Linked DNA regions of Homo sapiens: all the other regions are linked to region 1. Evidence: fine-mapped expression QTL. A gene starts in region 1. Each other region holds a variant in brackets. All regions are shown on one strand. Distances are between the middles of the regions. Region 1 holds the start of PGM1 (phosphoglucomutase 1). Region 2 overlaps PGM1 (phosphoglucomutase 1). Region 3 overlaps PGM1 (phosphoglucomutase 1). Region 4 overlaps PGM1 (phosphoglucomutase 1).

Region 1 (8,108 bases):
GTGAGCCACCGCGCCCGGCCGAGACTATTTTGTCTTATTCATCAAACACCTTTCAAAGAGCTGTCATTTAGTACAAGTTCAAAACATATTTATAGAGTTAATGAATCAATACACGAACGAATACATCTAAATGGTAAAGAATAATTCATTAATGAAATAATGAGGGCCGGGTGTGGCGGCTCATGTCTGTAATTGCAGCACTTTGGGAGGCCGAGGAAGGCAGATCACTTGAGGTCAGGAGTTCCAGACCAGCATGGCCAACATGGCGAAACGCCATCTCTACTAAAAATACAAAAATTAGCTGGGCATAGTGGCATGTGCCTGTAATTCCAACTACTTGGGAGGCTGAGACACGAGCATTGCTTGAACCCCAGAGGTGGAGGTGGAAGTGAGCCAAGATCGTGCCACTGCACTCCAGCCTGGGTGATGGAGTGAGACTGTCTCCAAAAAAAAAAAAAAAAAAAAAAAAGTAAGGATTACCACTTAAAAGGTATTTCAAAGAAAAGGAAAATACATAATATGTACTTATCATTTTAAAAATAATACAAATTCCCTATAGAAAACCTGGAAAATCCAGATAAAATATAAAGAAAATAAACATTGCCCTATCTTGCAACTCAGTGGTAATCATTGTTGCATATCTTGGTATATTTCCAATGGCTTCTTTCCCGATTTCAGTGCTACCCACAGGGGAATAAGACTCCTTCTCTTGCTTTTCATAAATACTACAACTTGGAAATCTCTGCAAGTCAATTTTTGAACGTGGGTAGAACCTGTGAATACGATGATACATTACTCCTATGAACACGTTACAAAGGGAGATTATCCAGGTAGGTCTAATCTAAGAAATGGGGACCTCAATCCTACAACTGCAAGGAAATAGATCCTGCCAGCAATCTGAATGCGCTGTGTTAAAATCAGATCAAACTTTAAAAATTTTTAAAAGTTTAGCATGCATACAAAGAACAGTTTACAAACTGGAAGACATCTAACCAAAAGTGGCAAGAAGCCCAGCTCACAGCAGTTACAGTACAGCTTATAAACATTGAGGAAGAAGTATTTTGACCTTCGTTACATTCTTTTTAAGGCGAGTAGAGCTGTTAAGCTGATTTGTCTATAGCTGATTGGTTTAATTTCATTGACTCACACTGTCAAGGACATTTTGTGTTTTGTTTATGTCTAGAGCAAGTGTTTCAGGGAAATAAGGATGACTTAAGTTTTGGCTACCTGGCTATGGGTGGTTGGACTTAAAATATCTAAACTGGAGCCTCTATTTTTATTTATCTTTAACACTTGAAAGAAATTCTTCCCAGAGCCTCCAGATAAGAAGCCAGCTTGGCTCTTGACTTCAAATCAAGGTGTTCTTCCCAGAGGCTCCAGATAAGAACGCACCAAGCTTGGGTGGGTTCTTATCTTGAGGCTCTGGGAAGAATTCAATGAAATTAAACCAACTGGCTATAGACAAATCAGTTTAAACAGGTATGCTTGCCTTAAAAAGAATTTAATGAAGGTCAAAATACTTTCTCCTTGATGTTTATAAGCTGTTATATATCCGTGATTACCAGGATTGAACCTGGCCAAACCTTTTGATCTATAGAATTGGGACTTCTTATCTATAGAATTGTGACATCATAAATGGGTGTTGTTTTCAGCTGTTGAGTTTGTGGTAATTTGTCATACAGCAGTAGAAAAGTACGGGTTGAGTATCCCAAATCCAAAAATCCCAAACCCAAAATGCTCCAAAATCCAAAACTTTTTGAGTGCCAACATGACACTCAAAGGAAGTGCTCATTGGAACATTCTGAATTTGGGATTTTTGGATTTGGGATGCACAACCATTGTAATGCAAACATTCCAAAATCCGGAACAATCTAAAATCTGAAACATTTCTGGTACCAAACATTTCGGATAAGGGATACTCAATCTGTAATACAAGGGGATTGCATAAAGGCATGATTATCAGGAGGCAAGGAACATGGGGATCATGTTAGGTCTGTATAAGGGGCCACAGTAACCCTGTCCAGAACAGCAGAACTGCCAGTTAACTCATAGAATCATGAACTATAATCATGAATGGGGGTTGTCTTAAGCCACTCAGATTTAGACTGGTGTGTTATGCAGTTAAAGCTAATTGTTACAACTTCTGGGGTGAGAGAAGTATAGATCAATTCCTCTTAAATGAAAAGCTCCATCATATTTCCAAAGATACTGAAGAATATAGAAAGGGCATGAGATCTGAATTTGGGCCCGTGACTTTACAAGTTATCATTTATTGATGACTTACTTATTAGCACTGTGGTAGGAGCTGTATATTCTCTATCTAAACCATACAACTCTAAGGTAGGTATTTTGAAGGCTCAGTGAATCTATGCTATATTTTCATTTTGTGGAGTTAGATAACCTTGATTACATTCACCATCCAATCCTCAATTCTCTCGTCTATAAAATGGGCTTGATTATATTATTTAATTCACAAGATTACACTGCTCTGTAAACTCCTGTGCAAATATTAGAACTCATTACTAGCAGTCCAGGGTTCCGTTTTCACATAATATTTGCCACCGAAACTCATCTATAGTGACTACATCAACACACTGTATCTACATAGCATGTACTATATGAGCATGTATATCAACACTTGGTTTGTGAGAGTCTGCACTCTTATGGGTCTGTTCGCCTCCCTGCTTGATCAAGACATACCAATTAACTACCAAAAGAATATAATTCACAGGTGAATGATATGCTCTGGTTTTGGAATTGGGGAAGGGGAGCTAATATTTTTGAAGGCCTCTATGTTTCAGGCACCAGGCTAGATGATTTACTTCTAACAGCTGATTATGATTGAATTTGTTTGGACTGGGTCATTTAGAAACCACCTCAAGTAATTCTACTGTGAGCATGGGTCACAGTAGGATTCTACTGTGTATCCATGACTGAGAATTTCTGACATACAAAACCCCATTAAATCTTGCAAAAATATTCCAAAGTAGGTGATATGTTTATTTTACAGTAAGGAAATTGATGCCCACGGACATTAACTAACTTTCCCAAGAGCACACACCTTGTAAAGCCAAGTTTTTTGCCACTTTACCAAAATGACAGGTTTCTTGAACAGAGGAGACAATCACTCTCATCAAATTAAGGGAGATACTAAACCGAAAAGCAAGAAAGACTGAAGATTCCTACTTAATAATCAAATCCCCTTGGTTGACCTTGCTATCCCCCGTGAAACTTTTCCAGCCATGTCAGTCCTTGTTTGTTGATCTCCTCACTTTATTTCTATTACATGAGTAACTGGCTAATTTTGATGGTGTTCATACTTATCCTTACCATATATTTGCTCCTACATTTGTCAAGTCCTGCTTGTACATTTCCTAGTTGCCAACCTGGTGTCACAGCGGGCAAATCATGGGAAGAGCCCTGGTTTTGGAGCCAGACCACCTGAATTGGCCTCCCGCATGGACTTAGCTGTGTGGCAATGAGACAAGGCATTTTATTCTTTGAATTTCAGTTTTGTAAGCATAAAAAGGGGAAAAATAAAACCCAGAGTTTAGTAAGGTTTAGAAACGCTACACTCAGCAAGTCATAGCTAAGTCACCGTCACCAATGGTAGTCAAGTGTGTGGTGCAGCAGGAAACATTTGGAGTCGACTCCTTTACGGAACTCAAATGCCCTCACATTTAGGGAGAAATAGAAAGAATTACGACTCATGAAATCGAGCTGGGGCTGGCACTTCTGACCCTCCCAACAGGTTTCCAGAAAGCTATTTACACACGATGCATTCGCCAAACCACTGGAAATCATTCTACCCTGTACTTTTTTCCACCCTGCCTCACGTCCTTGCCCTATGACCGGGTTCCTACCCCAACCTCTGCCCCAACACTTAGAGGAGGAGTTGCGGGCCTCTTTTTACAGTGGATAGGATTCCGAAGGGGAGAGTAAATCAGTAAGGCTCCACCCATTTCACAGGAGGCCTAGAGACCGGCGCTCCCCTTTCCCCTCCCGCCGGACCTGCCAGGAGGTGGGCTGGCGCGGAGGGAGGGCCCTGTCCCCTGTCCCTTTAAGGAGGAGGGCCAAACGCCGGCCTAGAGTGCGGCGTAGCCCCCACCCGCCGTGCCCTCACCCCAGAGCAGCTGCAGCCTCAGCCGGCCGCCCCTCCGCCAGCCAAGTCCGCCGCTCTGACCCCCGGCAGCAAGTCGCCACCATGGTGAAGATCGTGACAGTTAAGACCCAGGCGTACCAGGACCAGAAGCCGGGCACGAGCGGGCTGCGGAAGCGGGTGAAGGTGTTCCAGAGCAGCGCCAACTACGCGGAGAACTTCATCCAGAGTATCATCTCCACCGTGGAGCCGGCGCAGCGGCAGGAGGCCACGCTGGTGGTGGGCGGGGACGGCCGGTTCTACATGAAGGAGGCCATCCAGCTCATCGCTCGCATCGCTGCCGCCAACGGGGTAAGGGATGCGCGGCCCCGCGCCGCTGTGCACCCTGGCGCGTGTGCGACGTGCGGCCCGCGGCGCCCTCCCTCGCTCGGGGCCGGCCGCTTCCGCGCGCTGCCGCCTCGGTTTCCACCTCCCGCTCCTCCCTCTCCTTCGCGCTCGCTCTTCTGGCCTGGAGGCCCGACGGAGGTCGCCGGGCTGGGGAAAGTGGCCACGGGACCCGGCAGACCTGCTCGCCTGACTCCCGGGGCGCCGGGAGGTGCGGGCGCGGAGCCTCCCAAGGTCACGCCCGACTCTCCGTCTCTAGCCGCTGCCTTCCCTCTCCCCGTCCCCCGCCCCTCCCGAGGCGTCTGACATTTGCCCTAACCTTGCAGCCTTGGAAGATACGATTACGGCGCAGAGTGCTGTCGCCTTAAGCAGGAAAGGTTAGACTGCCGCCGCCTCGCCCAGAGCCCCCTCGCATCCCGCCCGCTCCTCTGCTATTCTCGGCTAGGACTGGCGCTTCCCGCTGGCTCGGAGCCCGACACTGTGGGGCAAGGGTGGCGAGAGCACCCATCCCCCTGGGGCGTCAGGTTGGCAGATCTCAGCAGGCGGGTGCCAATCTTTTCTCCCCGCCCCCTAGTTTGCCTTGGTTCCGAACTCCTGCCCTTTGCGCGGCCTGCTTGCTGGGGGGCAGGCGTTTGAAACATCTAGTCTCTGCCCAGTGGTGCCCGGGATCTGTTCCACCGACGGGGCTGGAGCTGAATTTTCATTAGAATGGCAACATACCCAAAGACGCCCTTACGCAAGCAAGCAGTCGTGGCAGGCCAGGAAATTACCGCAACACCTTGGTTCCGCCCCCGGCCAAGGAAAGTTAACTGACTTGATTGGGCGGGTCCACTCGGATAGGGGAAATTAAAAAAAAAAAGTTTTTCAGTAAATCTGATATATGGAAATGTGGGGCCGGGCATGGTGGCTCACGCCTGTAATCCCAGCACTTTGGGAGGCTGAGGGTGGTGGATCACCTGAGGTCAGGAGATCGAGACCATTCTGGCTAACACGGTGAAACCACGTCTCTACTAAAAAATACAAAAAAAAAAAAAAAAAAAAAAATTAGCCAGGCGTGGTGGCGGGCGCCTGTAGTCTCAGCTACTCGGGAGGCTGAGGCAGGAGAATGGCGTGAACCCGGGAGGCGGAGCTTGCAGTGAGCTGAGATCCCGCCACTGCACTCTAGCCTCGGCGACAGAGCGAGACTCCGTCTCAAAAAAAAAAAAAAAGAAAAAAAAAGTGGATTGATAAGTTGGGGCTAATTATTCACTTACTTTTGTAAAACATTTCTAAGGAGTTCTGAGGACCAAGTTTTCTTTCTATATTTTAAGTGAGATTTGACTTATGCCCAATTCTTCTGGAACGCATCCCCTGAAATGGATATTTTTATTCATTTTAATAGTACTTTATTTATCTTATTTTGTTGACATTGAGTACTATTTGCCAAGCACTATGGTAAGCGCTTCATTTCTGGGTCTCATTTATCCTCCTGCAGCCCTATAAGGTAGATGCTATTATGGGTATCTTCAAGTTGCCAACGAGGACGCTGAAGCTTAGGTAGGTTAAATAATTTACAAAAACTATAATGGCAGCACTAAGAGTCCAATATAGATCTGCCAATCCCAAGAACTTGAACAGCTCCTGAGAATGAAGAATGAACAGCCCTTGATCTTGAAGATCTGTTTTCCAGGCTCCAAAATCTAAACTGGGCTCTATCTACATCTGCCTTCCTGGGCCAAACATTTATAAGCATCAGTGAGAGAAGATTGCCTGGATTTGTTTACTTTGTGGTCCTGAATTTTCAGACAAGCGCAAATTCCCATGAAAGAAGAACAGACAATAGCTGTATCCCAGTAGATCATTTCCCTGTTACCACCTGTGCTGAATTTGCATTTCATTCATTCATTCATTTATTCAGTCAGTCATTCAACAGATCCTGTTGAATACCATGTTCAGAGAAATGTGTGGACTAAAAGGATGATGCAGACCCAAGAGTTGTCCTTAAGGAGCTTACAGCAGAGTGGGAATTTTAGGTGCCCAGATGGAAATTTGTCCATTTGGGAGTAGTGTGGGGTGGGAAGGAAAGAATTAGTTAAGACTAAAAAAAAAAGTTCTTAAAACTTCATCACCCTTTAGCCATTGCCCTATTGCTCTTCTCTCAGCCAACCTTTGTAAAAGCTTTCTGCATTCACTATTTCTCATTCTCACCTCCGGTTTACTCGCCATTTCACTGCTTCTGCCCCCTCCACTACTCCAGTAGAATTGCTCTTGCCAAAGTTACTAGGGACTTGCCAGTTGCTAAATTCATGGAATACACTCTGGTCTAATCTTATTTGGCCTTTCTGCTGCATTTGGCAGTGCTGATTTTGTACTCTTGTAAAGTTCTTCCTCCCTTGGCCTTGCTTACTCTCCTGATTCTACTCACACTTTTTGGAAGTTCCTTCATGGGCTGCACATTGACTATCCCCTAGGTTTCTTTCTTCTTTCTTTCTTTCTTTTTTCTTCTTCTTTTTTTTTTTTTTTTTTTTTTGAGACGGAGTCTTACTCTGTCGCCTAGGCTGGAGTGCAGTGGCGCAATCAGCTCACTGCAACCTCTGCCTCCCAGGTTCAAGCAATTCGCCTGCCTTAGCCTCCTGAGTAGCTGGGATGACAGGCATGCACCACCACACCTGGCTAATTTTTATATTTTTAGTAGAGATGAGGTTTCACCATCTTGGCCAGGCTGGTCTCGAACTTCTGATCTCAGGTGATCCACCCTCCTCGGCCTCCCAAGGTGCTGGGATTACAGGCGTGAGCCACTGCGCCTGGCCTATTCCCTAGGTTTCTACGCTCAGGTTGTTCTCTGATTTTGTTCACTCTCTCTACTCACTCGGGATTTAAATATGCTACTCTTTCTCTTGTGATATGATTCAGTCCAGATGGCATCTTCAGAAACCTTTCTTGACACCCCATCCCTACCACTCTTCTCCACCTATTAAGTGCTCCTTTCCCATAGATAATTCTAGAATATATATATTAAATTCTAGTGAAATTTTCCGTTTACATGTCAACGGCCTCCAACTAGAGAGTAAGCTTCTTTAAGTCAGACCTGTGTTTTACCTGTATCTGCAATGCCTAGGACTATGTAGCATTCAATGAATTCTTGTTTATTTGCTCTGAACTGTGAGTCACTTTTGTATTCTAGCACTTGATTTAAAGCCAGCATGTAGCTGGTGACCAATAAATTTATTCACATCAAACATTTATTATGTGCTTGCTTTGCCTCAGACATTGTACTTGAGATACAAAATATTTTTGCCCTTGGGAAAGACATAGTCTGGGAGGGGTGGTATACAGGAGTAAGCAGACAGCACAATGTGTCAGGTGTTGTGATGGAGGGATGTGCAGGTGTCTTTAACCTGAGGGGCTGTACTTGGGAGGGGAAGATGAAGGGAGGGAGGCTCCATAGAGGGGTGGTAGCCGAATTGAGTCTTAAAGAATGACTTGGAGTTCCCAGAGTGGGTTTGTCTGGTAGGAGGAATTCTTAGCAGAATGAATACAAATTGAGGGAGTTTAGATTAGATACAAATACAAATTTCTAGTCCTTTTTTGTTTCATCCACAAAGGTTGGGAATAATACATACCTGAAGAGCCTGTTGTGAGGATT
Region 2 (8,108 bases), 55 kb after region 1:
CATTACACCTCACAATGTATAAACTATTTCTACTTGCTTTTTCGTAGTAATTTCTCACAGTTATGAGAGAGAAGTTAGCATTATTTCTGTTTTGCAGTTGAAGAAACTGAGGCTCAGAAAATGTGATTTGTCCAAATTCAAGTAGTTTACAAGTAACAGAGCCTCAAATTCAGGTTTATCTGATTCTTAAGTATCAAGCTTTATCTGCTGAGCCACAGAAAATGTGATTTGTCCAAATTCAAGTAGTTTACAAGTAACAGAGCCTCAAATTCAGGTTTATCTGATTCTTAAGTATCAAGCTTTATCTACTGAGCCACAACTGCAAAAAGAATAGCTTTAGAAACACGTACCTGCACCATTGGTATTTTCCACTGGAAACTTGGCATCATTCATCAGAACCCTGAAGAAAATGAAATTTGCTCCAACTTCCTGAGTATTAATTGAATTACCTGGAATTTTTGATACATCCAAGGTGATTAGTGATGAACCAGAATATCCAAAGAGGCTGAGGATTATGCAATTGGAATTGGATATTTGTTTATGTTACCCAGGGCAGGTATTTTGTTTATAGTATTAGGTGTATGATTTAGTTATCTCCAAGTAACTTGGCCAGAGTTGGGTAAGATTTTTAGATTTTATTTTCATTTCCACATAAAAGAAAAAATCAAATTCCTTGCTTAGGGCAGGAAAAGCCACAAGGAACACTGCCTTCTATGCTTTCAGTCTAGCCAAAAGAGAAAAAAGAAAAAAAAATTAAGGAGAAAAAGAAGGAAGAAAAAAACCCAGTGGGGCACAGACAAATAATTCCAAGCTGTATATGCTGTCATGAATTCCCAATATATTAGGGAAGCTGCCAGAATCTTGCTTCTCAGGATGAACTGTTGCCAAAACATATCATTTGCAAAAGCCGTAAGAGCCAGAGAGCTTTTTGCTCCTTAAAATAGCAGTAAGGGCAAATAAAAGTCTAAAGATAGTAAAATTAGGTAAACATTTTTAAAATATGTTATATAAAGCACTAAAAATATTGCCTACTCTCTAGTTTTGCCTGCATCCGGGTTTTGAGGACTGTTAACTTCTAAAAGTAGTATCCTATTGAAGAGAAAAGTCTTTTGAAAGAAAAAGTCATGTTTTTTTAAGAACCAAAAATAGAAAGAGAAAGTGTTGGAGTAAATTGATTGGTTGATTCATTCACACAGTCTTTCATAATTAGTTATTTACCGTATTCCTTGTGCTATGCTAGTCACCAGACTTAATTACAAGGATAAATAAGAGATGCCCGTAAGAAGCACACAGTTAGTGGGGAGAAAGGCTCACAAACAGATGGTTGAGACTCGAGGAGGCTGATGCCACCCCAGATGTTTTGTGCAGGTTGCTACAGGAGAAGAAAGAGAAGGGAGTTCATGACTGCCTAGGGAAGTTGGGAGCTAGTCTTAAAAAAGAGAGGACATTTGAGCTGGGTCTGAAAAGATGAAGAGAGGAAGGAAAAACACCACGTGCCTCCTGCATACCCAGCATGGTGCTAGATACTCTAACAATTCCAAGAAGAATAAGACCAGCGGGAAGTGCAGTAGGGCAGGCACATAAAGAATTCAACATAGGATAATGTGAGAGCATGATTATAGAGCAATTGTGTACAGTTCTATTCAGAAATCAGAAAATAAGGCTCCATGTAGACTGCTTTCTTTCAGAATAAAGAGTTTAAAGGCAAAAAAATGAGAGTTGTGTTCCATATCAGGCTCTTGGAAAAGGGTGTCCATGCATATAAGCACATCCTCCCGAGAAGCCCATTTTAAAATTTTGTTAAAGATTTTAGCAAGGACCTTAGCAGGAGACAGATGTCTCCTTTAAGAGACATCATTAAGGTTTGTTTAACCAAACCTTAATGGTTAAAGAACAGTGTCTTGGAGTTGCTGGATCCATGAGTAGGTCCAATTTGAAGGCTTTGATCCTTTTTTGCCAAATTGATGTCCAGAAGGATTGTGCCAGCGTCCACTCCCACCAGCTCTTTGGTGGAATCCCGTTTCCCTTTTATTCTCCTGGCACTGGCTGTTCGGATTTTTACACTTGTGGATTTTTACACCTTTTGTCAAGCAAGTAGCAGTTTCTCATTGTGGTTTTAACTTTAATTTTTCTTCTTAAAAATAACACCAGCTTTTTATTATACTAATTGGTTGGGTGTATGTGTCTATGTGTATTGTTTGGCAAATCGCCTATTGATATCCTTGGCCTGTTTTTCTATTGAAATTCTTTTTTCTTATTCATACATAAGAATTTTTTCTATATTGAATGTATTAAACATCTGCCTTAAAATATATCAAATGTGGCCGGGCATGGTGGCTCACGCCTGTAATCCTAGCACTTTGGGAGGCCGAGGCGGATGGATCACCTGAGGTCAGGAGTTCGAGACCAGCCTGGCCAACATGGCGAAACCCTGTCTCTACTAAAACTACAAAAATTAGCTGAGCATGGTGGCGGGCACCTATAATCCCAGCTACTCGGGAGGCTGAGACAGGAGAATCGCTTGAGCCTGGGGGGCAGAGGTTGCAGTGAGCCAAGATCATGCCACTTTACTCCAGCCTGGGCGAAAGAGCGAAACTCCGTCTCAAAAAATAAAATTTTACATATATATATATATATATATATATATATATATATATATATATATATATAGTATTAAACATCTACCTTAAGTGCTATCCACTTTTAAACAACCAGATCTCTTTAATTTTTTAAAGTTTGTCAATGGGCTTTTAATTTTGTCCATAGTAGTTTTACACTATAGAAATGCTGATTTTTAAGTAGATAAATACATCAGTGTTTTCTTTTATGAATACCGAATTTACATTATTTATCACCCCTAAGATTTATATATATAAATATATAAAAAGACATGTATATTAATATAATATATACTAGTATTTAAAAGCTTTCAGGTTTTACATTCGAATTTTTAGTTCAACTGGAATTATTTTTGTTATGGTGTTTTATAGGGAAGAAAACAATTTTTTAAAGCTATTTATCCAGTTATCCAAACGCCATTTAAAAAGTAATCTACTCTTTTCCCACAGCCTTGCAGTGAGACCTTTGTCATACTCAAGCCTCTTGTGTGCTTGGATCTCTTTCCAGATGCACTCTTGTTCTATTAAGCTACCAGACTATTTGAATTATTGAAATTTTGTAATGGTCATGTTCTTCTGCTGTTTGTTCATTTAAGATCTATTGTGTTTTCTCTTCACATTAATACTTTATAACTGATATATCAAATTCCACCTAATTATCTCACTGACATTTTTATTGACTTATGCCTTACATTTCTAAATCACTTTGGGAAGCATCAATTTCTTTTCAGTATCATGTTGCCTACTTAATATGTGATTCCTCCTGTATACCCAAGTCCTCAGTCAGGCAGTGTGACTCTTTTATTTGGGTCTGCACACCTACTGTTGAGTACTGTATTAGTCTGTTCTCACACTGCTATAAAGAACTACCTGAGACTGGGTAATTTATGAAGAAAAGAGGTTTAATTGACTCACAGTTCTGCAGGCTGTACAGGAACCATGGCTGGGAGGCCTCAGGAAATGTACAATCATGGCAGAACAATGAAGAGGCAGCCGGCACCTTCTTCACATGGCTGCAGGAGAGAGAG[A/T]GTGAAGGGGGAAGTGCTATATACTTTTAAACAACCAGATCTCATGAGAACTCACTTACTATCACCAGAACAGCAAGGGGGAACTTTGTCCCCCATGATCCAATCACTTCCCATCACGTCCCTCCCTCAACATGAGATTTGGGTGGGGATGCAGAGCCAAACCATATCAAGTACCTTCTCAGGTACTGGGAGAAAGCACGTTTCTTACAGCAGCTTGCTGTCCCCCCTCCAGGTTCTGACCACATCCGTGAGAAAGATGGACTGTGGGCTGTCCTTGCCTGGCTCTCCATCCTAGCCACCCGCAAGCAGAGTGTGGAGGACATTCTCAAAGATCATTGGCAAAAGTATGGCCGGAATTTCTTCACCAGGTGAGCCACAGCCCAGCTGGGGTACAAGGTAAGGTGGGGAAGTGGGCAGAGAGAATTCTTGCGCATCCACAGCCTCTCCTGTCTTAAGTGCTAATAAAACCCTAGGTCATCCAGCCTCTCTCAATTGGAGACTTTAAAAATAATCTGGTCAGGGATGAAATGAAGTCAATTTTTATGTCAGCCATAAAGAGTGAGGCTTTAAAAGTTTAGCTAACATAATCAAAAGAATAAATGCTTTATAAGCATTTTAAATGTGTCCATTGGGTGGACATGATCATAACATTGGATTTGGATTCAGAGAAATGGATTAGAATTTTATTTCTTCCCCTTACTAGATTGGGGAGCCATTTAGCTTTTCTCTGTACTCAGTTTTGTCATCTGTAGAAATGGGAATAACAGTCCAGCTGTTGAGAGGATTAAATGAATAATGAGTCTGAAAATGTTTTGTTAACTTTGGGGCACTGAAAGCCTAGAAACTTTTTTTCATAAATTATAGAAACAGTTATGCTTAGTCCACATCGACTTTTCTGCCTTGTGAAATAGGTCCCCAAGGGCTATATACTTGTCAATAATTTTTTTAATTTATTCAACAGATATTTACTGTATACCCGATTTCCATCGGGTACTTGGAATTCAGCAGTGAACAAAATACTTAGAATACTTAGTAATTATTCCTTATCATGCGTACTTCTATTTTTAAAAAGCATTAAAAAATTTTTGACAGTAGTACTTTTCACTAATTCCAATTTGCCTTTCCCCCAGTTAGTGTAAAAATCTAACAAGAATTTTTCTGGACCTCAGTATTCCAATTATAGAGAGAAAATATGGTAAAAAGGATATTAGATGAATTGTTTATGTATAAGAAATGAATAGGTGTAATTTCTCTGGACCTCAGTTGCCTGTTCTATAAAATGGGTGAGTTAGACTAGAGAATTTAAAAAATATATCCCAGATTTTATAGTCCGTGATCTCTGGATAGTCAAGAAAGAATTCAACTAAGTAAATTAAGCTCCTTAATCAGAATTATTTTATTAACTTTGGACGGATTCATTGATCTCTTTCTCTCTCACGTTACTGTTTTGTGGAAGGAATAAGTAATAACTACCTGACACCACACAGTAGCCCTGGGAACCAAGGCAAAAAAATCCCTACTTTATAACAGACAGAAAAACCTGGTCATTCAGAACAGCAGTCATGAACTGTCTAGAACCTAGAGTATCATAAAAACAAGGCCATGTCTGTTTTTGTGCCCTAAGCACCCAACTCATAGTAGAGACTGCATAAATACGTTTTGAACCGATAAATGAATGAGTTAACAGGTGAACAATAGCCAGAGTAGAATAAGGTTAGGAGGGGTTGTTCAGAGAAAGGGTCACACCCTTGAATTAGTCACAATCCTCCATATAAAAACTATTTTAACATGATTTTATTAATTATCAAATATAATTGCTAACCAAGTATTACAAATCAAATCCTTAGTACCTGCATTTATGATTAGTTAAAACTCCATTATACCTTCCACTTACTGAACAAAAGCGCTAGGCACTTTTGCATGCATTGTCTCACTTTAGCCTCAAAACAGTTATTGATAAGGTAGCTGAGATTCTGAGAGATAGGGCAGCTGGCCCTGTAGTCACACAATTAATAGCCAATAGAGGCTGGATTCATAGCTCATCTGTCTGATTGCAAAACCCAGACTCTTCTATTCCACCCCTCTGTGCCTAGGGTTTAGAAAACATTTCTCTGGAGTACCCAGAGGTCAAAAATGTAAAGCACAAACACCTGGTTGTAATTTCTTGTTGTTTATCATGTTAACTAGGGGAAAGAGCTGACTTTAAGATTAAGGGGACTGTTTGGCCCTTGATTCATAGAATCCTGGAGCCAGAATAGGCTGGCCTTAATTCCTCAGCATTTCTCATGTCTCAGAGGTGTCATCTTGCATATATGATATCTATTTCACGATTACAAATAAATATAGACTCTGCTATCTTGAGCTTCTAAAAAATAACTCTCTCAAGAGGGTGTATGCCACTAGGTCAAGAAAAGCCACCTGTACAAGTCTTTAACATCATAAGAAAGAAGTCAAAAAGAATTCTTGAAGGAAAACTCATCTTTATAGAATTTCATTTGTGATGCACTTTTTTCCTTGGCCCTTTTTCATCCGCACTGGGCCTCTTCTGTCAGGGTGAACCCAAAGGACCTTGGACCAAAATCCACTGCCACTGAAAGGAGGGAGGCAGAACTTAAAATAAAACAAAATTTAAAAAAAAAAATTGGGAGAGCATCAGGATAAACAGCTAATGCATTTGGGGCTTAATTCCTAGGTGATGGGTTGATAGGTGCGGCAAATCACCATGGCACATTTACCTATATAACAAACCTGCACGTTCTGCACATGTATCTTGAAACTTACTAAAATTAATGAAAAAAAAAAAGGCATTTTAGATGTAAAGAGTCAGTGTTTGGCGTCTTCATCTGGTCGGTGAAAACTTGGCCCTGCTTTAGGAAGCTCCTGTGGAGCTGGAACTCTGCTTAGTCAAAATCTCAGCAGCCTCAGGCAGGTCTCAGGCTGGGAGCAGGCCCAGCATTCACCCCAGAGAAGCCCAGGGAGCTTGGAGGAGAAGTGCCTGAGTCACGTGCTCCTTTCAAGAGAGTTCTCCAGAGATAACATTGCTTTTCATTTTACCTCCTCAGGATGTGGTGACTAAATGTTAGATAGCATCTTTCAAAAGCCTTTGAAACATCTTAGAGCTTTATTCTGTAGAAATGCCAAGATGGGTGTTTTCTGCTTATTCAGAAGCTCATAACCCTTCCCTGAAATCCTCCAAACCCTTCCTTTCATCCCTGGCCTGTTCCATCCCCAGTGACTGACAGGCCTGTATTTTTTTTGCCAGCTTCTTCTGAAGTTAGATAGTTTTGCGGGAGGGCCAAACAAATGATGAAGAAAGTGCTGACTGATAGGCCTTGGTGTGATCTGCAGTCAGCCCGTGGGCCTCAACTTCGTGACTTCTTCCAGGTATGATTACGAGGAGGTGGAAGCTGAGGGCGCAAACAAAATGATGAAGGACTTGGAGGCCCTGATGTTTGATCGCTCCTTTGTGGGGAAGCAGTTCTCAGCAAATGACAAAGTTTACACTGTGGAGAAGGCCGATAACTTTGAATACAGCGACCCAGTGGATGGAAGCATTTCAAGAAATCAGGTAGAAACAGACCGGTGTGTAAGTGAGAGAGAGACCTCAGAGCTTCATCTCTGACATCTCAAGGGAAAAATTAAAAAGTTCCTGTTGGCTATTTTTCTTTTGCTGCTGTGTTTTTCTAGGGTAGCTGTTCTTACCTGGTTTTCTGCTGTCCCACGTGACTCTCACATGCACTCGTTGGGACAGTGGTTTATGCCCTTGTTCTGTGCACTGTCCAGTACCCTCATTCTGGGATTCTTAACCTGGACTCCAGAGGGATTTTTGCACTCTCTGGAATGATATGCAAGATGATGTGTCCATTGTACATGCAGAAAGGAGCCCCAGAATCTAAGAAAGAGGGAGAACTGTGGGAACTTAGATGTCAACTCCTCTCTTTTCTGTCAGCAGATTATAGCAGAGTGACAGCATGTAAGTGGCATTATACTTATACGTTTCTCTCGTATGTTCTAATTTCTAAAGGAGAGAAAAATAGATGAGGCATTCCCAGACTTAGAAACGTTGACCATCGTCATTCGCAGCACATGAGTGGCACCCCACCTAACACAGCAGTACCTGGCAAGACGCCACAGTTTAGGACCTGGAGCATCTCTAGATGTGGACAGAATTGTTAGTGCTTCCCTTACTGTGTGCCGGGTACCCTAGGCTGCAGGCTGGGTCAGGCTTTCTCCTGGCTTCTCATGAACACTTACGCACCAGGGTTCTCTCACCTCTGCTTCTGTTGCCTGTTGTCACAGAGTAAACTCATCTCTCACAATTCATAATAGAATAAAGAGCAGGATGAAGATTCTGTTACAACCTCCCAGTTTACTTTTTTCCAATTGACCCAGATTTTTGGCCTGGTCCTTGTCAAGGCATCTCATAGGGTTTGGAAGGGCCGGGCCGTGGGATTTACTGGAG
Region 3 (8,108 bases), 45 kb after region 1:
AGATAACAGCTCTGAATCCCAATTCCCACTTTTCCTAGCCATGTAAGTTTGGGCAAATGTCTTTACCTCAGAACACCAACATTCCAATGTATCTGTAAACTGCAGGTGATAATCATAATATAAACATTTATAACATATCTGCCAGGTACTATTCTCAGTACTTCATAGCTATTAACTCATTTAATCCTTACATCAATCCTGTTAAGTAGTTAGCATTACTACCCTCATTTTGCAGATGGAAGAGACTGAGGCACAGAGAGTTTAAATAACTTTCCCAAAATTATTATACAGCCAATGACTGGCAGAGCTGGGATTTGAACCCAGACACTCTGATTCCAGAGTCCAGGCTCTTAAGCTCTAAGCTGTACAACCTTCTGAGCTTTTCTGAAGGACTGAATGGGAAAGCACAGGTATACCGCAGGGCCTTTATAATGGTTGGTTTCCTTTCCTTTCCCCACTCTGCCCTTCATGAACTGGCCCCACCTTTTCCAACATAATCTCTCATTGTTCCTTTTTAGAGAACATTCTTCTCCAGTCAGGCGTATCTCTCCACTAGTCCCTGAACACATTTCACACATTCCTGTTGTTTCTCATGCCATTCTTCTCCCCAGAATGCATCCACCTCACCCCTGAATCCTCACATACTTTAAGGAGTTTTATTTTCTGATTCTGCATACATTTATTCCATGCTGTATATAGTTGTGGGACCGTATGTAAAGAAGATCCTCTGTGAAGAACTCGGTGCCCCTGCGAACTCGGCAGTTAACTGCGTTCCTCTGGAGGACTTTGGAGGCCACCACCCTGACCCCAACCTCACCTATGCAGCTGACCTGGTGGAGACCATGAAGTCAGGAGAGCATGATTTTGGGGCTGCCTTTGATGGAGATGGGGTGGGTATAAGTGCATTTAAGTGAACTCTGGTGCAGGCCAGGCCTGATCCTGCAGATGGGGAAAAAAGTGGGCTGCTTCTGCCAGACCCAGGGAATAACTGTTAAGGATCCCTCATTCTGACCCGAGGTCAGAACTAAATTATTAGAAGCCCCTCTTGAACAGGAATAGGAGTCATTGAAATGAAACCCACACATTTAATTTCAGACATCCATACTTGCTAACAATGGCACGATGATTAGGTTCTGATTATGATAGAATGACTGGTATTTCCTGAGCTGGGTGAGTTCTAGATGCCTGTCTTAAGGTGGGTTTCTGCTCTCAACCAGCAGCTGGCTACTTATTTAATCTCTGGACAAGATTTTGGTCTTATAATACACCCATTCATTCATTCACATGAGCTGAATATTGAAGCTGTAATTTCATTGCCTATATGAAGATGATATTGAGAGAATTAACATTTTAATCATTCTCTACCATTAAAATGTTTAGAAATAAGCTGTTTTATTTACAAGGGTGACTATGTACCAGACAAGGAAGAGATGTGTCTTAGGTTTATATCCCTGGTATCTCACTGATGGTAGGCACTGTATACATTTACTTAGTTGAAAATATATTTTTGTTGTTGCTAGTGTTACCATTAGCTAGAATCCACTGTTTCCTGAAAAATGATTTTTCCCTTATCAAAATGTTGGGAAATTAAAGGGGTTCCAGCAGACATTATTCTGTAGTACATCTTTGTGATGAGTGCATTCTGGGAGTGTTTTTTGGCCACCCTCCCAGTTACTGTGGTACACAGACTGTGGTACACAGTTTACCCAGTAGACCTACCAAACTATGTAAACAGCCAATATTTCTTCTCTCATTGCATTTTCCCCTCCCCTGGGAAAAAGATGATTGGTTCCAGAGTCTGAAAAAAGTCTAGGAGGTTAAAGTTAGCTGGCCTCTGGAGGGAGAACAGAGGACTCAGCTCAAAAGGAGGTTGTGCTTGGACTTTAATTGAAAACAGTTTTAACTTTTTGGCATGGAGGTGCCTTCGGCCCAATGGTACTGTATAAACTCATTGAAAATAAAACCCAGTGTTAAAAATGCAGTATGGAAAGGAGATCAATTTCAAATTTTATAGTTTTACATTTTATAAAACCCCCATGAAAGATAGTTTGATTTCTTATAGTTTGATTAAAAGGTCTTTCTTTGATCCTCTCTTCTCCCCAAGGATCGAAACATGATTCTGGGCAAGCATGGGTTCTTTGTGAACCCTTCAGACTCTGTGGCTGTCATTGCTGCCAACATCTTCAGCATTCCGTATTTCCAGCAGACTGGGGTCCGCGGCTTTGCACGGAGCATGCCCACGAGTGGTGCTCTGGACCGGTAGGTGTCTCCATTCCCTTGGCCTTCCTGTCTTAGGTCGTCCCAGTCTTCACCATACCCTTCACTGTGCCTGGAACACGTGTCCTTCCCTTTCAGCATGGGCATCTGATGCATAGAGTGTGCTGAGCGATTCTTGTGTGAGGGGATGGTTGGCTTTTTCTGGATTCAATGCCCCTCTCCGCACTCCCTTGGCACCCTGGGCCTCCTCCTCCTGGCACTTACCACACTGTGTTCTAGTAGCTGTTTTCTTGATGGGCTGCCCTGCTAGACTGTATACTTCTGCAGAGAAAGGACTGTTTTGTTCACCATCTGGACTCTGCCTGACCATAGCGTGCCTGGCACATAGTAGGACAAACACACACACACACATACACGTATAATTTTTTAAAGTTAATGAATAGTTGAGTGTTAATGAATAACAATGGAAGTACTCAAGACATCATTCTGGAGGATCACTTTTCTTTTGCAGTGTGCACAGAGTGTGGGTGAAAGAGCAGTTTGAAGTAATTTTAGAGTTTCAACGACTGGATCGCTCTTGCCCACACAAACACAGTGAATGTTTATATATCACTTCATTGTACAAAGGCTTTGAGGTGGCTTGTTAGATCACACTTAAAAAGTTGAAAAATGAAAGTCATAACAGATGAGGACCAGGGAAAACATTAGTTAGAATATGTCAGGTGTGCAGGAAATGTTTGATGAATAAAAGGTAAAGAATGAATGAATGAATAAAAGGTCAAGGCCAGGGAGGAAAGTAGGCTGTAATATATCTCTAGGCTCTTATAATAATAGCTGATATTTATTGAACATTACTTTGTTGTAGACACTAAATATTTTGCATGTTTTAATTCATTTACTTCTCAGATGAACCCCATGAGGTAAATGCTGTATTTAACACCATTTTTCTGGTGGGAAAACCAAAGGACGAAGAAGTAACTTACCTGAGGTCACCCAGCTGGTAAATGGCTGACTCAGGATTTGAACCCAGAGCCTTTGCTCCCACTCACTGGGCCATGCAGTTGTTTTCTGTAGAGGGGAGATGGTTATAGAATTGGTGCTGACTTTGCTTCAGCTAACAAGAAAATAGCCACTAATATCCATATAGTGGTTTGTAGTTTGTATAGTGTTTTTTTACATTCACCATCTCAATTGATCCTCACAGCAGACCTCATTTTAAGGAAGAGGAAATGGAAAGTCAGGGAAGTTAGCAGTCTTGTCCAAGATCTCACCACCAAATTAGAGCTAGCATTTGAGCCCAGCACGTCTACCATCAGGTCCTGCATTTGAAATTATGAGCTGGTTTGAGGTCACACTATCATATGTTAGGCCTGTCAGGTCCTGGAATACCTTCTATGTCATCCAAGAACAGTGTAATTCCAATTTTTGGAAAAATTGATAATCCACATATAGAATCACAATTGAAGTACCTCATTACCCAGATAAAAGTTTATTGTACTTTCATAGTTTTCAAAATCATAGATTTGATTTTTCCTCAAATATCAGAATGCAAAGCTGACATTGCTTTCCTGGAAATAAGGCAAACATTCTGGGAAGCAAATCTCGCTCAAACAGTGAATGGAACTTATCAGGTAACTTTTCATGTTCAAAGGGAAAGGAATTTTTTTTTAAGTCACTCAGAGGTTTTAAATAGTTTAAAGATACCTAGAGAGAAATAAAAGACGTGTTAGAAGGGAAGGGGAACCACTAATCAGTGTGGGTGAAGCCAGTACTTAGGGGAGACCCCACTGGGCGTTTCCCCTGGGGAGACTTCTGATGAGACAAAAGCAGCACTGACCAGAGAGCTGAATACTGGGCGGTCGGTCATCCTGGCTTTGTGACCTTTGTCTGATCACATAACATTCTGGGCCCTGTTTCCTTCTCTGTAAAATGCTAACTGCCCAGACCCAGTATGTCATGATTCTGTGATTACAGGTGCATCAAAACATCATTCTTCTCTTCTTTATAGATTGATTATAGATGCAGTCTGTATCCAAAATGTGGATTTAAATAGCTTAAACAGCAGCCCTGAACATTTTACTACGGATGCTTCTTCTAAAATATTAAACTCCATGATCTGAATTAATTCTTTCTTCTTCCGCCTTCTCT[GAATCCACATATAAT/G]AGCCCATTGTGCACAAGGTTTCTCTTATGATTTTCCACCAATCTTAGAATTATGTATGACTCTGAGCAATGCTAAATGGGACCCTTGATTACAATAACGATTGCCCTTTTCCGTCCCTCACATGGCCACGCTAACAGTCCTGCTGTGATGTAACTTTGATTTCATGCCTTTGAAGGGTGGCTAGTGCTACAAAGATTGCTTTGTATGAGACCCCAACTGGCTGGAAGTTTTTTGGGAATTTGATGGACGCGAGCAAACTGTCCCTTTGTGGGGAGGAGAGCTTCGGGACCGGTAAGTCACACTCCTGTGCTAGCATTTTCCTCCCTGTAACCACTATTTCCAGTAAAAGCTTAGACTGCTAAGGTAGCACTGAAATACCAACGGTAGCCGATGTGTCCTAAATCAAGGCACAAATTATTTATAACAACCCTGATGAAATGTGCACATTTGAAAAGGGGTGAGCACATTCAGCCAGAAAGGCTAATTTTACTTTCAGAGGATCATATCGACTCAGACAGGAAGTTGGGGGGCCTCCTCAGCAGCGTGGTCATTGAGTCTGCAGGGATTAAACAGAGCGATAAACAGATTTTTCTTCCTTCGGTGGTCAAAGAAACCTTTATAAATGTTTTCATTTCTGAGAAGAAATACGGTGGAGCAAGTCGGTTTTTTGTTTTTATTTAAGAAGAGGTTTCAGCACAGCATTAAATCTTTCTCTTTTATAGGCCCAAGTTTTCTATAGCAGAGTAATCAAGGCTAAATGAAGGAAGACCATGAGGGTGGAACTAAGTTGCTAGGTGATCAAGAAATTAAAAATACATCGTTGTGCCTGAGGATGTTTGTGTAATTGTATTAATATTAGAGTGAAAGAAGGGTACATAGTATTCTCAGGGGATGACCCCAGACCTATAGACCTCACTCTCTGCGCTCTCCTTCCTCCTCTCTGCTTGTCCAAATATTGACCCGAACTCCCACCTCCTTCACGACCTTCTCTGCTACCTCATGCTGCCTGTATCAGTCTCTCTTTCCTAAAAGTCTGTTCAGGTGTGTGGCCCTGTCCCATGTATCAGTCTCCGGCCAGGTTATAAGGTAGTTAAGTGACTGCATCTCTTCTCCTTTTATTCCCTCTACCCAATATTTTTAAGTAAATGTGCTGATCTTGGTCCTATAGTACTCTACTGTCACCCTTTAGTGAAGAAAAGAAGATCAAAATCAAGCATTCTCTCAGCTTTGCAATTGAGTTGCAATTCATGCCAGGTTAAACAGAACAGAATACTGACTTCATTTCCTTTCCTATAAGTCTGGAGGTAGAGCAGGTAGAATGAGCTGCTAAATTGGAGGCACATATTTACAGAGTTCTAAGCAACTTGATATTTTCGAGAGTGGTAATATTCCTTGGCAATGAACTGCCTTGATAGAATTGGAAGGTATGAAGAAGGCTGGATGAGTCTTGGGGTTGAACAACTTCCACAACAAAGGCTAGACAGTTTCCCAAAGTTGTGGGTGTTTAAATCAGAGATTACAAGGCCACTGCTTAGTCCTTTTCTACTTCATATAATGGGCATGGTGCCATGCTATTCTGAGGGATACTACATGAGTGCCCAATGAGCCTATGAGGTGGTCTTCTCCCATGAAACTCCCCACAGGGTCATCTAGTTCAGGCCTGGCTTCAGTCATTCTTTATGAATGAAGATGTCTTTGAAGGCAGCAACTGTGTCAAAACCTTTGTTTTCCTGTTCTCCTGTACCAGTATCAGTGTTGAGCCTAGTGAAAAGATAAAAGTCTAGAGTCAGGTTTCCCAGAGCATGTGAGTATGTGGAAGAATACTAGTTCCATGAGAGGGTTCTAGGGGTCAAGAAAAATTGGAAAAATTGGACCACACTTCTCTGTTTTGGATATTCACAATGATATTAGCATTTGAAGATTCCAGAACATTCTGCCATAAAGAATCCTGTTAGTACAGTTTTGCCTAAATATAGTTTACCACTATATATAATAATTATGATGATATGATACAATATCATCACCACAATAATGATTATTATTATTATCATTTCGTAGTATGTACAGTAACTTCTTTTTCCACAGACCCATGTGGGAAGCCTTGGTCAAGAGGGATCAGAGCCCCAGAGCCAAGTAGGAATCCCTGGTGCTGACCCACAGGGAACAGGCCTGAAGACAGGATAGCACAAGCTGCTCCTCTTACACAACAGGCCTTCAAATACAAGAAGCAGCTCTCAGGTCCTTCCTTCTTCAGGCCGTCCATCTTTGTTTCCTCCAGTCATTCCTCATTTCACATTGTTTATAGACTCAGTGCCAGACTCTAGGTGCTTCTGAGTTTGCCAGTGCCACTCTTAGAAGGTGATGCCCAGAACTGAGCCCAAATCTTCCAGGGTTGGCCTGGCAAGTGAAGAGTGGGGTGGGATGATTATTTCTAGTGATTAGGACACTGTATTTTTCTTGACATAACTTTCCTTTATGTTAGTTTTTAGGAAGTTGCATAATACTGTTTAGCCCACATAAGGTTGTGGGTAATTAAACCCTTAAAGTTTTTACCTAGAACTATTTGCCAAGGGAAGTCTCTCATGTTATGTTTGTGGAATTGATTTCTTTGAACCAAAGTATTAGACTTTAGACTATTGTTAAAGTTTGTTCTCATTTATTAACACATTCAACAAATACCTAGTACCAATCATGGTTTTAGCTTCTCCTTGGTATATTTCATGTCCAAAGAGAGAATGCTCTTCATTATCATGAGGATAATCACAAGCTCTTTCTCTCTCTCTCTCTTCAAAAAAAGAAAATTTTTGTGTAATATTTCTGAGATAAACATTTAAACAGCCAGGCTGCATAGCCATAGATCGCTGTTGTGAACGAGTGCAGCTGGGCTTATTTAACTGAACTCCTGATCTTCTTATTTATAGAGGAGTTAATTTTTAGCAACCACGCCCCTTGCTAGTGAATGTTTCCAACAGTTCTTTCATAGAGTTTCTCAGGGTAGACATTAGTGACTCTATGAACTTTGAAACATTTGAATTCTATAGCTTAATTGAGCACAGAGTGCTTTATTTCTGTATTTTTCCAGGCGATAGGAGAGACAATTTCTCAAAAACGTTTCCTTGACCTTTCAGAGTGGGCCAAATCCCCTGATTATTGGCTCTTGTGGCACCATGTACCTCTTCTTTGTTGTACTTGTTGCAGCTGTGATTTTACAATTACTTATGGTTATTTGATTAATGTCTGTTGGCTGTATATGCCATGAGGACAGAGATCTTATGTGTCTTATCCTGCATTGTGTCCCTCGAGCCTCCCGTAGAGCCCAGCATAGAACAGGTGCTCAGTAAACGCTTGTTGAATGAGTTCATGAACACTATTCACTTGGCACCTTCCATTTAGACAGATTCCTGCTATTGGAAAAGAAAGAACTTTAAAAGGTATCTGATGTAAATTCCTGTATGATGCTGGAACCATAGTGACTGGTCACTGCTTTCTGGCTGAACCACCCACCTCAATGGAGAATCCACACCTCACCTCTTGCCGTAGTCTGGGACCCTTGTAATGACTCAACACCACTTCCACTCCACAGTCCAGGGTTGGGAACCCCAGGGTCTTTGCGGGAAGAAATGCACTTTTACAAAAGAAAAGAAGTTTGCTTGCAAAGAGGTGCAAAGGAGTCTAACTTCAGGACTGGTCCACCGAGTAAAACAAACCACTAGCATCTGCAGAACAAT
Region 4 (8,108 bases), 21 kb after region 1:
AGCTGTTTAATCTTGGGCAAATTGCTTGAGCTGCTTCTTTACTCATTTGTGAAATTAATATGTTGGGGGTTTTGATGGGAAATACAGACACTTTAAACTTCTTGCAAAAGGTTTCCCGGCCATTACCCCCTCATTTTAACTTCTCTTCTTCCCAGATTTGCCAATGACCTGTCAAGATGCTCTACACCTATTAGCTTATAAATTTCAGAACAGAAATATCTTTCTTACAGAGAGTGTTTCATGCACAGAGCCTGGGGGGAGGGAGAACTGTTCTGTATAACTTTAGGTTTTCAGTAATATGTCGTCAGCCTGATACTTAAGTTTTCTCAAAAGAACACAGCAGCCAGCCCCAAAGTAAGCAAAATTGATCCTGAGTAGCTTAAGTACTGGTTACGGTGTTTGGTGTTTGTATGCCAGGTCTACCCCTTATGGTTTTAGGATAGTGGTTCTGGTGAATAGTTGATTAGGTCCACTTGCTCCAGAAATCTCCGTGAATAAGATTTGATGGGGTGCTTTCCATCCCTGAAACATTTACTGAATGTTTTCTTATTGCTTAATACAGTGCTGTGTATTTGGGGCATGCAGTAGTGCATAAAACGGTCTCCGCAAGTGGGCATTGCAATATAGTGTGAGAAGTGCCTCGTTAGGGTGTATTGGGGGCCCTAGGGAGGGGAACACGCAGGGGTGGTCAGAGGAAGCTTCCCAGGGGAGATGTGTTTAAGCCAAGTCCTGAAGGATGATAAAGAGGAAGCCAGGAAAAAGTGTAGACATGGGGGTATGAAGAAGACATTCTGTGTAGTGGGAGCAGCCCTTGCAAAACAAGGAGATCCTTGTAGAAAGTAAAAGCACAGCCTTAGACTGTAAAGTAGGACTCATCCTAACTCCAGCATTGCAGGAAGGGAAGAGGGAGGCCGCCGGTGACTCAGCTGCCTTAACCCCTGAGGTCACACAGGTCCTTAACCCCTGAGGCTTTCTTTTATACACAGGCCAACATAAGACCCAGTCTGGGAATTATCCTAAGGCCCAGCCTGGGAATTCTCTTATGGCCCTGAGGGAAGGGAGGATTTTGGAGACAGGATCAAAAACCTAAAAAGCTATCTGTAGGCCGGGCGCAGTGGCTCTCACCTGTAATCCCAGCACTTTGGGAGGCCAAGGCAGGCAGATCACAAGGTCAAGAGATCAAGACCATCCTGGGCAACATGGTGAAACCCTGTCTTTACTAAAAATACAAAAATTAGCTGGGTGTGGTGGCACATGCCTGTAGTCCCAGCTATTCGGGAGGCTGAGGCAGGAGAATCGCTTGAACCAGGGGAGGTGGAGGTTGCAGTGAGCCGAGATTGCACCACTGCACTCCAACCTGGCAACAGAGCGAGACTCCTTCTCAGAAAATGCTATTTGTAAGGAGGATTGGGTTGAAGTATTTGCCCAGTAACATATTAAGGCTATCAGGAGCTGGACGTGGTGGCTCACGCCTGGCCTGTAATCCTAGCACTTTGGGAAGCCAAGGTGGGTGGATCACTTTAGGTCAGAAGTTCGAGACCAGCCTGGCCAACATGGTGAAGCCCCATCTCTACTAAAAATACAAAAATTAGCCGGGCATGGTGGCGCGTGCCTGTAATCCCAGCTACTTGGGAGGCTGAGGCAGGAGAATCGTTTGAACCTGGGAGGCAGAGGTTGCAGTGAGCCGAGATCACACCATTGCACTCCAGCCTGGGGAACAAGAGCGAAACTCTGTCTCAAAAAAAAAAAGGCTCTATCAGTTTGCTCTGACTCTCTTTCTTTAACCAGCAGGTTACGTGACACGTGACACCATCTGCATGTGACCTACTGTCTTCACTGGGACAGGCCTTCTAACTTGGGTCAACTGGCCTGAACCCATACGTAGAATGATTGATATATAGTTCACTAAGTTAAATTATACATTTATAGACGCAAAAAAAATTTTGACATACAGTGTGGTTGTGTTGTATCCTACTGCTCTAATATTAGGAAAGGGGCTGGGATGCTAGGTCAGCTGGGACCCTCTTTTTCTCGCTTGCATTCATCTCTTTTTCTCTCTTACTCTCACCACTTTTCTACCTCATGTTGAGTAGCGCCATGAAGACCCCTCCTTCATCACTCTGCCTGCAGTTATCCTGGGAAGCAATTATAAGCTTTCAGCCTCAACCATGCAGACTAACTGGCTCTACTTCCTTCACTATTGCAGTTTCTAGTTCTGTTCGTAATTGTTGCACAAGACTTTGTGCTATTGCAACTACTTGGAATGCCAGTTCCAGGCAGAGTGCCCTCTGTTGTAGACACCTTGTGCTTTGGGAAGTTGTCTGTGATTAGGGGAGTAATTTTCTATTTGAGGTTGGTCTCAGGAAGGGAAACCACTCCTGACTCCTGCCTGAAAACTCGCCTCCTTGCTCAGAAACACTAATTACAGGGGTCGTTTGATGCTCTCACTTAAATATTTTAGTCACTCACACATTTATTGACTATCTGTATGTGCCCAACCCCATTCCAGGTACTGAGGTTAAAAATGAGTGAGATGCAGTCTCTCCATACCACAGAGCAAAGGAGGAAGCTTGTTTGTGTATATGGAGCATGGCCCATGCAGGGTTACTTAATGCTAGAAACCAAACACTCTGAGGCAAAGAAAAGGTGTAGGGGGTTGGGGGGCAGGGTAGAGGAATAGTCTACCCAGACTGCCTGTCACTCAGACCAGCCACTCTGCTGCAAAAGGAGTTGGCTTATCTTTTTTTTTTTTTTTTTTTTTTAAGCACTTAGCAGTTTCCTAGGGCTGCTATCTGCTGTAACAAACTGTGTGGCTTAAAACAATGGATATTTATTCTCTTGCACTTCTGGCAGCTTAGAAGTCTGAAATCGAGGTGACAGCAGGACCATGCTCCCTCTGAAGGCTCTAGGGGAGACTCTTTCCTTGCCTCTTCCTAGCTTCTGGTGGTGGCTAGCAATCCCTGGTGCAGTGTAACTTCAATCTCTACCTCTGTCTTCACGTGGCATTCTTCCCTATGTATCTCTTCTGTCTCTGTCTCCAAATTTCCCTCTCCTAAATCCTGTCATTGAATTTAGGGCCACCCTAATCCAGTATGCTCTCATTGTAACTTGATTACATCTGCAAAGACCCTATTTCCAAATAAGGTCACATCCCCAGGTTCCTGGGTTAAGACTTCAATGTATCTTTTTTTTTTTTTTTTTTTGGAGGGGGCGGGAGTAGTGCACCATTCAACCATGACATCTATACTCTGTCCACCAAATGCAGGTGGGTTTTGTACAGACACCAAAGCACATATACTTTGCACTTGGGCAGTAGCCCTTTGGGAGTCACTTGGGATCTATTTCCTCTTAATTTTCTTCAAGTTTAAACAAATTTGATCATCCAAAGGAGCCATACATAGCCCAATGATGAGAAACGTGAGCTTTGGCTTTAAAACTGGTGTTGAAGCC[T/A]GCCTTTCCAATTTATTGTGAGTCCTGGAGCAACTCGTGTAACTTCTTTAATCCTCAGTTTCCTTATCAGTAAAATGGGAATAGTGAGAATACCTACACCACTGAGTTGTTATTAAGCCTGCATGAAAACCTACATGTAATGATATTCACTGTGCTGAGCACTTTACATGATCTCATATAGTCTTTTCAACAACTCTTAATTGATTGGTATTTAGACTTCTGTTTTACAGATGCAGAAATAGAAGCTAAGTGATTCGCCCAAGATCTCCAAGATACTAAAAAGTATCAAGAGTTGGAATTTGAACCTGGATTTCCACTGTGCTCTATTCCTCAAGACCCTTTTTAATAGTTATGTAGCGCTACAGTCTAGGGGTTCCTAAACTTTTTAAGGAAAGTCCAACTTTTTATATCCCTAAAGCCTTGCTCTCACTGAAGCCTTGATTGAGGCCAAGAGAGAATGCCTTGCTGCTGCCCCCATGAGCCACTGCCCATCTAAGGAATTCCCACAGATGCCCACATTTACCCACATGCTTTAAAAGCTCTTGTTTATTGAGTCTTTGCTGTTCACCTGGCTGCATATTACATTACAAGGCAAGGTAGCATGATAGTTACATGTCTGGGCTCTGGAGACAGACTGCGTATGACCTGGTGTCTTCTTAGAGCAAGCCTTCTAACTTGGGTTGGCTGAATCAAATCTATATGTAAAATGAATGATATACAGACAGTTCACTAAATCAAAGCCCATCTCCACAATCTACCTGACCTCGGACAGATGACATAATCTCTGTATCCCCCATTTTCCTTATCCCTAGGATAAGGGCTGAGAATAATAAGCCCCTATACAGTTGTTGTGAAGATTAAATAAGTTAATGCTTGTAATGCATTTGAAACATGACCCAGCACATTGTGGCCTACTGAATTTATCTTCTACTACCTTTGAGCAGGCATCATTGTCCTTACTATTTTACAAATAAAGAAACTGAGGCCAGAAAGGCCATATACCACTAGAAGGTTCGAGCAAAGCAAGGATTCAGGCTCAGGCCTGTTTGACTCCAGAGCCCAGTGGTTACAGCAGGGACTGTACTTGATTCTTTAAATCCTCCTTCTGCTACCTGTCCCATTCCTCCAGTGCCTGGACCATTGGAGATGTTTAATCAGTATTTATCCACAGATAAACCCATTGCATCTATGCCCTCCTACCTAGGCTTACCTGCTTTCGAGATCAGGGGATGTGTTAGAAGGATGTGATCAGTCCTTATCAATACCCTTTCTGTTTTTAGTAGTTTGGATAACATTTATTGAGTGTCTACTATATGGCCAGGCATTGTGAGAAGCATTTCACACATACCTTTCCTCATTTACTTTCAGAACCTTCTAAAGGAGGCTTCACTCTCTGCATTTTATGGAAACTCTGGCTTACAAGGACCCCATCGAAAAGGATGTTCCCTCTTTGTGGCCACCTTCTTTCATGTCCTTTACAGCCGGACATCCTATTTTGGCCAGACCATATAATTGAAAATGATCTTAATAATGAGACAGACAGAAAATAACCTCACCATTTCTCTCCTCTTCTTCTTCTTCTTTTTTTTTTTTTTTTTTTTTTTTTTTTTTGAGACAGAGCCTTACTCTGTTGCCCAGGCTGGAGTGCAGTGGCGCGATCTCGACTCACTGCAATCTCCGCCTCCCGGGTTCCAGCGATTCTCCTGCCTCAGCCTCCTGAGTAGCTGGGATTATAGGCCCTGCCACCATGCCTGGCTAATTTTGTATTTTTAGTAGAGACGGGGTTTTACCATGTTGGCCAGGCGGATCACTTGAGGTCAGGAGTTCTCTCCTCTTCTTAAAAGCCCCAGAGTCCCACCATATTTTAATTATTTGATGGAGGGCCAACCACTGCCTGCCACAAAACTTAAAGGGGCACAATTTCCCTTGTGATCTTGGTGAAGGGAGCCCATAGAGTTGTGCAAGGCTGCTCTGGGCAGAGGTGAGTGAAGCACTGCCCCTTACGAGGCTGCTGGCAATCTTGCTTGTTTTTCCATTTTCCACCACAAGAGGGCAACATATGACCATGAATGATTTGAAAATAAAGCGATTCCTTAACTGGTTCTCTTTTTACCAAAGAATTTTAATAATTGTGCTCCTGGTAAGTTAGAATGGGGAAAGTTCTTCTGTTAGCGCCAAGTGAATATTCTTAAGGGATTGAAATTCAAATTGTCTTGAGAATTCTCCAAAAAGGAAATAAAAGACATAGAAAAATGTTATATGAACCACATAAATGGCTGTTTTTATAGGTCAAAATGTTTGAATATGGGTCATTTCTGATAAAACAGGAGACTCCTTCACACGTGCCTTACTTATGAAAAGGGGTTCCTAAGCCTTGCACATCTTCAAATTGAGGAGATTGTTTTCAGACGTAACCACATGGGTTCAGAATGGCAATTATGCAGATGGAGAATGCCTTCCATGGCTTCTTGTCTGCCCTGTGAGTGCTCATAGCTCTCTTGTAGGCTCCCAGATGAGTACTTTTTACTCCATTTTAAAATGATTTGTTGGCTTATCTATCTCTCCTTCTGCACCAAAAGTTTCTTGGCAACTTGAGTCTTCCTGAGGTGTACAGTGCCTGGTGAAATGAATACAACACATCGGTCTATATAGGACATATTGGGTAGATGGATGGGTGAACAGATGGACAGCCAACTGACGCGTGCTAAAGGTTGTACACTCTCTGAGGCAGAGGCAGCTGTTATGTTTGTTTTTATTTTCAAAATCTACTTCAGGAGTCTCTGTGAACATGGGATTCTGTAGAGCTCTAAGCCATCTGGCCCTTGTAATTCTTCTGACCTTGTACCTTCTTCCAATTTTAATGTAATTTCTCCTTTTCTTTAGAGAACATTTCCTAACTCTACTAAAATGCACATAGCCAATGGCCCGTCCCAATTGTTGGGTATGAAACACGCCTGCTTGTTTTCAGATTCAGAGCAGTGCTAAAGGCTAATACTTACGCAGGGCTTGCAAAGCACTAGAACCAGCTGGTGCTAAGCTCTTTACATTTGTAAACTCCTGTCTCTTAATACAACAAATCTATGCAGTAGCTACCACTTTCAATCCCTGTTTCAAAGGTGAGAAAATAGAGGCACAAAGAGCCTACATCCCTTGCCCACGGTCCCCTAGTCAGAAAATGGTACTCGGCCTGTCTCCTTGCTGTGGACTGAGGGAGCTCAAAGGAGAAGGGGAGGAAGTGTTCTCTCTTCCTTTTCTTGCCTGTACTGGACAGCAGGTGAGGCCTGGCTCACAGCTGGCAAACAGGACCCAGGTACTACGGAGCCCTGGTCAGCCCTGTAAAGAGATGTAAGCAGCTATAAGTAGCAGAAGCCCAATTAGGGTTCAGTGAGCCCCTATGAGGCCTGACACACAAGGACTGCACACAGAGAGAGGGGCGTCTCCTGCAGCCACAGGCAGTGGTGGGGCAGATGGACTTCAAGACCCTGAGACACATTTTGGGAGGCCAGGCGGGCAGATCGCTTGAGATGAGGAGTTCGAGACCAGCCTGTCCAACACAGTGAAACCCTGTCTCTATTAAAATTACCAAAATTAGCAGGGCATGGTGGCACACACCTGTAATCCCAGCTCAGGTGGGATTGAGGCTGAGGCACGAGAACTCAGGAGGCTGAGGCACGAGAATTGCTTGAACCTGGAAGGCAGAGGTTGCAGAGATTGCACAACTGCACTCCAGCCTGGGAGACAGAGTGACTCTGCCTCCCCACAAAAAAAAAAAAAAAAAAAAAAAAAAAAAGACCCTGAAACAAGAGGAACCCAGGCAGCGTCTCCTGGTTGTCTCAGCACATCTGTTTCATTTTCCTCTCTCTCTGCTGACCCATTTGTCAATGGAAATTAGGTTTCTCAGTGTGTGTGGTTTTTTTTTTACAAACTCATTTAATCAAGCACCTATGAATATTTCAAATTTTTAAGTCAAATATTTGTTTTCTTTTAAAATTCCTTGTCTAATAAGGAAAACTTTTCAAGTATTCAAGTTGTTCTCATGTAATCAAATAATAACAGCAGATCCTTGTACAGGGCATACTATAGCCACCCTGGTTTCAGAACTATCTGTAAATTGCTTCATTCAAACTTGACTACAACAAGTAAAGTAGAGCTGCTATCATTATCTCCATCTTGACAGATGAGGAAATGGAAGCACAAAGAGGTTAAGTAACTTGTCCAAGATCATATTACTAGTAACTGGTAGAATAAGGGTTCAGACCCTGTCACTTTGGCTTTAGAGGCCATTCCCTCAAGTACTATAGTATACTGTCTGCATGTGATGACTTAAACTTATAAATATAATACAGTCCAAGTTTTCTGGAATGTTCCACTAATGTTTATAATTTTGATAAAATTCTTCTCATAAAATTCTTCTCATACCTCCTTAAACTTAAAATCCTGTCTAAATAAGTAACACAACCTGCACTTAATTATAAACTGGAACCACAAGGCTAATCTTTAGATAAACTAATATCCCACATTTCTTAAATGTATTTCAAATGCCAAATATACCTAGTTTTCCCCCCCTTACTCCAAAAATATTAATACTATGTTCATTTTATTATTTGTATCCTATGTGATATATTTCATCATCTGTACACTTAATTTTAAGAGAGTAT

What was found. PIP is the estimated chance that this variant, and not a neighbour inherited with it, causes the effect.
Region 2: its variant is fine-mapped to the expression of PGM1 in whole blood (TOPMed, PIP 0.92).
Region 3: its variant is fine-mapped to the expression of PGM1 in tibial nerve (GTEx, PIP 0.94).
Region 4: its variant is fine-mapped to the expression of PGM1 in whole blood (TOPMed, PIP 0.99).

What each region holds. Positions count from the first base shown.
Region 1 is chr1:63,589,285-63,597,392 of GRCh38, forward strand. It overlaps PGM1 (phosphoglucomutase 1), which reads left to right and starts at 4,127. Exons shown (of 11, transcript NM_002633.3): 1 at 4,127-4,450. The coding sequence starts at 4,205. RefSeq lists enhancers at 4,114-4,403, 5,104-5,163 and a silencer at 4,444-4,743.
Region 2 is chr1:63,644,639-63,652,746 of GRCh38, forward strand. PGM1 (phosphoglucomutase 1) reads left to right here. Exons shown (of 11, transcript NM_002633.3): 8 at 3,879-4,014; 9 at 7,031-7,214. Among named protein-coding and RNA genes, the nearest start is that of PGM1, 55 kb to the left of the region's middle. The variant A/T (reference allele first, on the strand shown) is at 3,647.
Region 3 is chr1:63,634,130-63,642,237 of GRCh38, forward strand. It overlaps PGM1 (phosphoglucomutase 1), which reads left to right. Exons shown (of 11, transcript NM_002633.3): 5 at 700-890; 6 at 2,105-2,259; 7 at 4,556-4,671. Among named protein-coding and RNA genes, the nearest start is that of PGM1, 45 kb to the left of the region's middle. The variant GAATCCACATATAAT/G (reference allele first, on the strand shown) is at 4,366.
Region 4 is chr1:63,610,520-63,618,627 of GRCh38, forward strand. The region is part of intron 1 of PGM1 (phosphoglucomutase 1); the gene reads left to right. Among named protein-coding and RNA genes, the nearest start is that of PGM1, 21 kb to the left of the region's middle. The variant T/A (reference allele first, on the strand shown) is at 3,451.